2 separate regions of the Homo sapiens genome follow, and region 2 is linked to region 1. Evidence: fine-mapped expression QTL. Tissue or cell type: whole blood. Region 1 holds a variant in brackets; the other region holds the start of a gene. All regions are shown on one strand. Distances are between the middles of the regions.

The links. PIP is the estimated chance that this variant, and not a neighbour inherited with it, causes the effect.
Region 2: RPS6KA5 starts here. The variant in region 1 is fine-mapped to the expression of RPS6KA5 in whole blood (TOPMed, PIP 0.96).

Annotation. Positions count from the first base shown.
Region 1 is chr14:91,138,510-91,143,856 of GRCh38, reverse strand. All of the region lies in intron 1 of DGLUCY (D-glutamate cyclase), which reads right to left. Among named protein-coding and RNA genes, the nearest start is that of SNORA11B, 15 kb to the right of the region's middle. RefSeq lists enhancers at 1,402-1,571, 1,622-1,721 and a silencer at 2,858-3,152. The variant G/A (reference allele first, on the strand shown) is at 2,498.
Region 2 is chr14:91,057,637-91,062,636 of GRCh38, reverse strand. RPS6KA5 (ribosomal protein S6 kinase A5) reads left to right here and starts at 1,996. Exons shown (of 17, transcript NM_004755.4): 1 at 1,996-2,305. The coding sequence starts at 2,203. It also overlaps a transcript of DGLUCY not described here. RefSeq lists silencers at 1,494-1,623, 1,844-1,903, 2,274-2,403, 2,474-2,543 and an enhancer at 1,686-2,266.

The DNA of each region.
Region 1 (5,347 bases):
TGTGGCAAATGAAGATGGAATCCCTACACTTCTCTGGGTTATTGGAAGATTAAATCATGTTAGTCAAATACCCAGCACAATGTCTGGCATAGTCTTGCTCTTTCTCTACTGTATTTCTCCTCTGCTGAACACTGACCAGTGGCTGGGCCCTCACAGGTATATTGTCCCCCCATTCTCTGTGGATGACCATCAACCCCACCCAGGAGCTGAAGGGTGATATAGAGGTTCAAGAAAACATTGGCCACCAGGTGGGAAGAAGTCTCCATCCCATTCCTTGCCAAACATAGATTTGCTGTCAGAAAGGCAGAGCGTGTGGAGAAACGGTTGGAGACCAGGCCACTTGTTTCATTGCAAATCCGTTGTATTTAGATTACACCTAAGGCTTTGTCCTCTTGTCTCTGCTCAGCAAGCCACGAACACTTCCAGATCTGACAGCCTGAGCAAACTGTTCCTCAGAACTGCTGCCAGGCGCGGTGGCTCATGCCTGTAATCCCAGCACTTTGGGAGGCAGAGGCGGGCAGATCACGAGGTCAGGAGATGAAGACCATCCTGGCTAACACATTGAAACCCCGTCTCTACTAAAAATACAAAAAATTAGCCGGGCGTGGTGGAGGGCGCCTGTAGTCCCAGCTACTTGGGAGGCTGAGGCAGGAGAATGGCATGAACCCGGGAGGCAGAGCTTGCAGTGAGCCGAGATTGCGCCACTGCACTCCAGCCTGGGCGACAGAGCAAGACTCCGTCTCAAAAAAAACAAAAACAAAAACAAAACAAAACAAAAAAAGAACTGCCAAAACTGCCATTAGATCCTTTTTTTTTTTTTTTTTTTTGAGAGGGAGTCTCGCTGTGTCACCCAGGCTGGAGTGCAGTAGCACGATCTCGGCTCACTGCAACTTCCGCCTTTCCATTTCAAGTGATTCTCCTGCATCAGCCTCCTGAGTAGTTGGGACTACAGGCATGCACCACCACGCCGGCTAGTGTGTGTGTGTGTGTGTGTGTGTGTGTGTGTGTGTGTGTGTTTAGTAGAGATGGTGTGTTGTGTGTGTGTGTGTGTGTTTAGTAGAGATGGGGTGTCACCATGTTGCCCAGACTGGTCTCGAACTCCTGACTTCAGGTGATCTGCCCACCTCAGCCTCCCAACCCAAAGTGCTGGGATTACAGGCATAAGCCACCGTGGCCAGCTACGATTAGACTTTTGAGTGTTACCAAATAACCAGTACATGTTTGCTCAGGGGTTTGTCAGCAAAGGGCAATGTTATACCTCTTCAGGCAAATTCATTTGAGGTGCACTTTTCTGGGGCTTAGGTGGGGGCAGGGAGGCCTGAGGGACAGGAAGAGATAAGAAATCTTTGCATCTTATTACCCTCTTCTAACTTCCTCTTCTACTCAAAGAAGGAGGGAAAGCCCAGCATTTGGTCCACCCCAGAATAAGTCTTCTGTTACTAAAGAGTTTCATCTTTCTAATGGAAGCCGTGCAGTTTCTATTTGTGACAGGAAGTGTTCTCAAAGTGTAGCTCTCCAGGACCCTGGAGTGCTTGTCAAAAATGCAAATTTCTGGCACCACACTATTCCTACTGAATTAGACTCTGCATAAATGATTGTAAACCTTGGGTAGCAATTCAGACCACAAGTTCTAGAGTCAGATAAATATAGACTGAATGCCAAGCTCCAGCTCTACCACCTGTGATCCTTGAGCAGGTTAATTAACCTCTCTGGCCGGGCACGATGGCTCACGCCTGTAATCCCAGCACTTTGGGAGGCAGAGGCAGATGGATCACCTGAGGTCAGGAGTTCAAGACCTGCCTGGTCAACATGATGAAACCTCGTCTCTACTAAGAATACAAAAATTAGCCAGACGTGATGCTACGTACCTCTAGTCCCAGCTACTGAAGAGGCTGAGGCAGGAGAATCGCTTGAACCTGGGAGGCAGAGGTTGCAGTGGGCCGAGATCACGCCACTGCACTCCAGCCTAGGCGACAGAGCAAGACTCTGTCTGAAAAAAAAAAAAAGGCCGGGCGCAGTGACTCACGCCTGTAATCCCCGTACTTTGGGAGGCTGAGGCGGGCGAATCACCTGAGGTCGGGAGTTCAAGACCAGCCTGACCAACGTGGTGAAAGCCCATCTCTACTAAAATTACAAAGTTAGCTGGGTGCAGTGGTGCATGCCTGTAATCCCAGCTACTGGTGAGGCTGAGGCAGGATAATCACTTGAACCCAGGAGGCGGAGGTTGCAGTGAGCCAAAATTGCGCCATTGCACTCCAGCCTGGCGACAGAGTGAGACTCCGCTTCAAAAAAAAAAAAAAAAATTAACCTCTCTGAGTATCCATTGTATCACCTGTGTGAAGGTAATGCTGAACAGTCAAGGGATATGGATCTCATGTGATCGTTCTAAGGATGAAATGGAATAATATTTGTTTAGCAGTGTTTGGCACATAGTAAATGTTCAATATACGATAACTCCTTTTTTTCCTTTTCTTTTTTTTTTTTTAGATGGCGTCTC[G/A]CTTTGTCACCCAGGCTGGAGTGAAGTGGTGCAATCTCAGCTCACTGCAACCTCTGCCTCCCAGGTTCAACCGATTCTCCTGCCTTAGCCTCCTGAGTAGCTGGAACTACCACACCCAGCTAATTTTTGTATTTTTAGTAGAGACAGGGATTCACCATGTTGGCCAGGCTGGTCTTGAACTCCTGGCCTCAAGTGATCCACGTGCCTCAGCCTCCCAAAGTGCTGGGATTATAGGTGTGAGCCACTGTGCCCAGCCTGATAACTATTCTTTTTCTATAACACTTACACTCAAGAAAGTCGGAGCACCCTACAAGAAATAACAGACAAACTCGGCCATCATGACCAGCCTTAAGAACTATCCACTGGTAGAAATTTTGACAAGTCTACAGGTCAGCAATCAGACCTGAAGGTTTCCTGAGTCTCATGAAATCCTACAGGATTCACATCTGATCCTCAACAATAGACCAGCCAGGAGAGGGCAGCAAGAGAGAGCCTGAGTCTAACCATTGCTGTTTGAATCACAACCCCTAGGTGTTGTGGGCACTTTACTTGGGAATGTCCAGGTTGATACTCATTTCAAAAGATGGCAGATCTGCTGGCTAGAGGTGTGGCAGCACAGATTACGAATGGGTGGTGACTGTTTATCAGGCTCTTGACTTTCATAAATTATTTTCTTGTTTGTTTGTTTTGGAAAGGGGTCTCACTCTGTCATCCATGCTGGAGTGCAATGGCGTGATCTAGGCTCACTCCAACCTCCGCCTCCCAGGTTCAAGAGATTCTCCCACCTCAGCCTCTCCAGTAGCTGGGATTACAGGCATGTGCCATCATGCCTGGCTAATGTTTGTATTTTAGTAGAGATGGGGTTTCACCATGTTGGCCAGGCTGCTCTTGAACTCCTGACTTCAGGTGATCCGCCAGCCTCAGCCTCCCAAAGTGCTGGGGTTACAGGCTTGAGCCACCGCACCCGACCCATAAATTATTTTCTTTAGATAATCACTCAAGCATCACTATATTGTAGGAAACAACAACATGTCATTGAGACATAGATTTTGGGAGACAGTTTAAATCAAACTGGCAAACTTTTTTGTAAGGTTTGTGAGCTAAGAATAGGTTTTACATTTTTAGGAGTTGTGAAGAAGGAGAAGAAGGAGGAGGAGGAAAGGGAAGAGGAGAAACAACAGTATTGTGAAGGAAAAACAAAAACTTGAACCCTGGTTCACTCTGCCAGAAGGAAGAAAATGAAGCTGAAAGCTGAGTCATGCAAGAATCTGTCTTTCCTTTTGTTCCTAAGCAGATAGCTACACATAAAAGGTTAAAGATCTCTGCAGGTAGTTACTCTATGTTCACCTTATCTTACAGAGAGTGCTGACTTACTATTCCCCTACCTGCTCCCTTTCTCTTGCAACATGGGGATTCAGTCATGTGACCACAGCCTCCCTCTTCCCCCTCCATCCTGCTTTCTCCCCTTTTAAATCCTGAAGTCCTCAAAATCATCTTTGGAGAAAGGCACAGACCCATCTCCTGGGCTTGTCCTTAACCTTGGCAAAATAAACTTCTAAATTGATTGAGAACTGTCTCAGGTACTTTTTGGTTTACAGTGTGATGGTCAATTTTATGTGTCACCTTGATTGTATCACAGGGTGCACAGACATTTGGTTAAACTTCATTTTTTTTGAGACAAAGCCTCAACTCTGTTGCCCAGGCTGGAGTGCAGTGGCACGATCTCGGCGCACTGCAACCTCTGCCTCCCGAGTTCAAGCTATTCTACTGCCTCAGCCTCCCAAGTAGCTGGGATTATAGGCACAAGCCACCACATCCAGCTCATTTTTGTATTTTTAGTAGAGACGGGGTTTCACCATGTTGGCCAGGCAGGTTTCAAACTCCTGACCTCAAGTGATCCACCTGCCTTGGCTTCCCAAAGTGCTGGGATTACAGGTATGAGCCAACACGCCCGGTCTGGTTATTTCTGGGTACATCTGTGAGGGTGTTTTGGGGTGAAATTAGCATTTGAATCAGTAGACTGAGTAAGGAGGATCCCATCCTTACCAATGGCAGTGGTCATCATGCAGTCTACGGAGGACTCGAAGAGAACAAGGAGGAGGAGGAAGGGAGCATTTGCTCTCTGCCTGGCTGACTGAGCTGGGCCTTTTCCTGTCCCTGTACTGGGATTTGCCCCATCAGTGCTCCTGGTCCTCAGGCCTTTGGACTCAGACTGGAATTTAGTCCTTATCTCCAGCTTGCAGATGGCAGATAGTGGAACTTTTCAGCCTCCATAATCCTGTGAGCCAATTCTTTATACTAAATCTGTTTGTCTATATCTGTATCTCCTATTGGTTCTGTTTCTCTGGAGAACAATGACTAATAGAAACAGAGATGCATGTGTCGTGGAAGCCTAAAATATTTAAAATATCTGGTTCTTTACCTAAAAGTTTGTTGAGCTCCTGCTCAGGAGCTGACTTTTGATTGAGCTCATGGTCTCGAAGGCCAATATAACTTAGATTCATGCCCCATCTGATATGGTCTGGCTCTGTGTCCCCATCCAAATCTCATCTCAAATTGTAATCATCATCATCCTCATGATGAGGAAGGGACCATGTGTGAGATGACTGGGCCATGGGGGTAGTTTCCCTGTTCTCATGACAGTGAGTGAATTCTCACGAGATTTGATGGCTTAAAATTGTGACATTTCCCCCCTCCCTCTTGCTCACTCTCTCCTGCCACCTTGTGGAGGTGCTTAAATCTCCTTTGCCTTCTGCAATGAATTTAAGTTTCCTGAGGCCTCCCCAGCCATGTGGAACTGGGGATTAGACCTCTTTCCTTTATAAGTTACCCAGTCTCGAATATTTCTTT
Region 2 (5,000 bases), 81 kb after region 1:
AACTGCCCTTGAGCTAAGGATTGTTTATATATATATATATATATATATATATATATATATATATATATATATATATATTTTTTTTTTTTTAGACAGAGTCTCGCTCTGTTGCCCAGGCTGAAGTGCAATGGTGTGATCTCGGCTTACTGCAACCTCCGCCTGCCAGATTCAAGCAATTCTCCTGCCTCAGCTTCCTGAGTAGCTGGGATTACAGGCGCCCACCACCATGCCTGGCTAATTTTTTGTATTTTTAGTAGATTCAGGGTTTTGCCATGTTGGCCAGGCTGGTCTTGAACTCCTGACCTCAGGTGATCCATCTGCCTCAGCCTCCCACAGTGCTGGGCTTACAGGTGTGAACCACTGCGCCTGACCTGTTTTTATATTTTTAAGTGATTCAAAAATAATTAAAAGAAGAATATATTACGATACATGAAAACTATGTGAAATTCAAATTTCAATGTCCATAAAAAATATTCTATTGGAACACAGCTACTTCTTTTATTTATTGTCTATGACTGCTTTTGCGCTACAATGGCAGAGCTGAGTAGTTGTGAAAAAGGTCATACAGCTTGCAAATCCTAAAATATTTACTATCTGGCCCTTAATAGAAAAAAGTGTGCTGACTCCTGATCCAATCCATGCTTAGTTTAAAAGATCACATCTATCTGAATTACGTCCAACTGTACATCTTTAAGTTTCTGCTTTTTCCCATTCTCGTGTCTGCTACTAGAAATCAGGTTCCCTTTAGTTCTATCCTTGCAGCAGGATTCCTGCCCTGCTATCTCTCTCCTCTTTTCAGTTCATCACTGTGTACTAAAAAAAATCTGCACTCTTCAGCACAGCATCCCTAGTTCCCCATTATCTTACCACACCTCACCTTGTCAGCTGTATCTCTTACATCATACTTTCATCTAACCTTATCAATCACTTAACCCACCCTTGCCTTCTCTGCTGTAGGCCAATGCTCACAGTTACTCTCTCTGTGTGGAATGTCTATTGCTGGTATTTCTCTCTTATCCATCCTTTACGTTGGTTATCTCAAATGCCTCCTTGCCCTAAAAGCTTTCCCCAGTTCCTCGTCTGGGAATAATTATTGCCATCCGTGCGAGATTCTCTAACGCTTTGTACGACTGCTTTATTTCAAATTCTGCTTTATAGTTCTTTTGTGTACACACACAGATTGTTTCTCACGTTCTATTGAAAGCTGCTTAGGGGAGGAATTGTATTCTATTTTGTTAATCTCTGCATCCTTTCGGCGCCTAGTAAGAGTCTTGTACGAAACAGAAATGTCTCTCCTTCGTAAAATTCCTCATCGGGAGCTGGGACTGTGAATTTTTGTAACGTTTAAGAACTATCTGTTATTTAAGAACAAACACTCTGCTTAACTTGTTTAGGGTTCACTAGAGCGAGTAAGACCTTTTTAGGGCACGCCGTCTCGCTGGTTGTCACACACGCATGGATCGCTGCCGGGACCCTTAGGTTTGTCTGCAAACACGTGGGTGATAAGCGCTACCCTCCAGGCCCCTCCTCTGTCCACGGTGATTGGCGGACCAAACGTTCCAATCATCCCTCCCCGCCTCTTTCGGCAGTAGCCAATCAGAGACCCCGAGCGCCTCCTGACTACTAGACACTGTTTACTAACAGATCGAAGCTGGGGAATAAGGGGTGTGACCGTTCTGGGGAGGTCAGGGAAGGGAAGGTCTTGACTGCGAGTGCGCACCAGAGGAAATGGGCGGGGCAGAGCTTTGGGTCTCACCAATCGGAGTGGCGGCGCTCCTCCCTCTCCTGCCTCCCCGCCAAGCAACAACAATTCGAGGAGCGAGGCGGGGAGGCTCGTGAAACGTCACAGCGTACTGCCCAATGGGAACCGGCGTTGGCAGACGCGCGCGCCCTGTGTCCAATCAGCGAAGGCGGCTCGAATGGCTCCCTTACCTTGCTGGCTGTGGGCGGAGCGGCCTGAGGAGGCGGCGGTGGAGCAGGGGGCGGTTTGGTTGCGCGGTACTAGCGGTGCCCGCCGAAGGGGGAGGAGGCGAGGAGCGAGCCGTGCGGCCAGAGCGGGAAAGAGACTCGTCTTTGCGTCCGAGTTCTGGAGCCGCCGCACCCCGACTCCTGGGGCCGCGGCAGCGGCTGCGAGGGGACGGGCGTCCGCTGTCTCCTGGGTTCCCCTCGTAGCGACCCGCGGGATCGGAAAAAAAGGAGAAGATGGAGGAGGAGGGTGGCAGCAGCGGCGGCGCCGCGGGGACCAGCGCGGACGGCGGCGACGGAGGAGAGCAGCTCCTCACTGTCAAGCACGAGCTGCGGACTGGTGAGCGACCCCGCCCTCTGCCGGCCGGGCCCGGCGCGGGGGCGCGCCTGAGGGCACGCGGGTGCCCGCGCGGGGCTGGGGGCGCGGGGCCGCAGCCGTGGGCGCGGAGGGGCGGGCCTGGGGCGGGGCGTCGCGGTCGGGGCGCGTGCCCCGGGGGTCCCGGGAGGTGGGGGCGCGCCTTGGGGGAGGCGGCCGAAAGTTTTCCCCAGCCCGGGAATGAGCGGCGGGCACCAGGCATCGGGGCCAGCGCAGCCGCCGACCGCTGCCCGTGGCACGCACCTCCGAGGATGTCGCTGCTCCCCCTTCCCGCACAGGTGACACACGTGTGTCTGCGTCCTGTCAGGGCGAAAGGTGCGCCTGCCTCCGCGTGGGGCGAGCGGCGCTTTGTTTTGGAGAGTGTCTCCCTCCTCCGCCCCTCTGGTCCCCGCGATGGGGGGTCCCGGTGGGGCTCTGTGGAGCCATCCCCTAAGGTGCTGGGGTCCTGTAGGAGATAAACGGGAGGTTTCGCCTCGGGCTTTTACCGAGTCCAGTCTAGAGACAGGAACAGGAATCGCCGGCTCCAGGGATTGAGTGCCTTTATTCTCACTTATCATGAAATACTATACTTGGCCTTGAATTTCCTTCAGAGGTCCCTGGAGATGATGGCTTTAGAAATTTAAAGCTCCAGGTAAAAGGAACTAACGAGCAGGCTTCAGCGCTTACGTTCTAATGTTTGAGATCACTAGCGTTGTCCTAAGCTTTATAACTAATTAAATGTATTCGTGGTGTAGGTTCAGGTTGTTCATTTTGGAAAATGCTTATTCAGACCAATCAGTACAATTTGGATTTATATTCTTGGAGCCCAGTCTCGTATTGTAGATATATTAATACTTTTTTCTCTGAACAGATAGTACATTTTAATGAGTCGTTCGTTATTACTAGATATGTTTGTGAGCGTTGAAGGTTTTTGACAGAGCTGCTTTGGCATATTGGGATTTTTTTTTTTTTTTTTCAGACAGAGTTTCGCTCTTGTTGCTCAGGCTGGAGTGCAGTGGCATGATCTCGGCTCACCGCAGCCTCCGCCTCCCGGGTTCAAGCGATTCTCCTGCCTCAGCCTCCGGAGTAGCTAGGATTACAGGCATGCGCCACCATGCCCGGCTAATTTTGTATTTTTTGTGGGGGCGGGGTGGGGGGGGCGGTCCTCTCCACGTTGGTCAGGCTGGTCGCGAACTCCCGACCTCAAGTGATCCGCCCGCCTCGGCCTCCCAAAGTGCTGGGATTACAGGCGTGAGCCACCGTGCCCGGCCGGGTTATTATTTAATTGTGAAGGCACAAAAGCTTAAACGGCAGGATTCAGGTGTCCACTAGTACATCTTGTTTCTGTTTTGAACAGATTGGAAAGTTAGCTCTGTCCGTCAGTTCTTTCAGTTTTTGTTATTTCTACTGAGATTGCCTATAAGCATTCCATTGGGTGCCAGTGTGGTGACTTAATTCAAGAGAGATGTCAAATTCATGCTTCTTAATTCAACATTTGTAAACATTGTTTTTTTGGTCATTGTGAATCTGTTATACATCTTGAGCCAGCTGTTCCATATTTTTGAGTTCCTAACATAACCTGTATGAATTCAGGTGATTTGGTTTTTCTTCTCTCAATTTCATAGACAACTGATATTTTCAAAAGACCCTGACATGGTTTACTCAGTATACATTTATTCGGATTTGTGCCACACTCAGTGTCAGGTGCTTTCTGGTGTGAAGATTTTGAATTTTTTTCTTGTCTTACATAACGATCCACTGATTTATATGTATGGAATCCTACTGTACAGCAAAAGCTACTTGAAGTCATATGCTTCTCAGCCATCGACTGTGGTGCAACAAGCAGCTTTTTGCTAAATGACCAAGGAGCAACCTGCTTGTTATTAGTAGTTAACCAACTGCTTGGTTTCTGGATTTTGCAAACAATGCTAGTTTTGTAGAAAACAATGAGTACTGCTTTATTTCCCCCTCTCTTCTAACTGTGTGAATCATCAGCTTCAAGTTCGCATTTTAGAAATTTTTCTGATGGATGGTGAGATTATACTGAATTCATTAGTACTGTTAACTGTCAAAGGAAACGAACAATCATTTTGATTTATTACTGAACACTGGAACAACTGACCGGATATAGTGGTCAAAAACACTGTTAAAATATAACTTGAAAGAGTTGCTCATCTTCAGCCAACTGCACTTCTTTCAGCACATGATCTATAATAGGCACCAGAGTAATTTGATCTGATATGGTCCCGTCTCAGAATGTAGATAAGCATCTAGTTATATCAGGCTGGCAGTTGGTGGTGGCTCATTTGTGCAGAACACTTTATTGTATTCCATAGGATGAATGAAAAAGCAAAAAACGTCCCATGAAAGGACATGGAGTTGGAAGACATGATTCTAAATCCCGTCTCTGCAGCTTAATATGTAGACATCGGCAAGTCACTTCACCCTTTCAGATTCACATCTTTAATCTATAAAATGTGAGAATTGAATGAGACACTGTTGGAAAAGTGCTAAGCGGGTTGCTTGGCATATAGTGGGCCCTTAGGAAATGTTGGTTGAATGTATATATAAAAATCATTCCATAATAGTATCTTATCTTGAAGTGTGTGAATTAATCCAGTGTAATTTGGGAAACAAATCACTCATTTAGTGTTTAGCCTATGTCACATTGCCTGGCTGT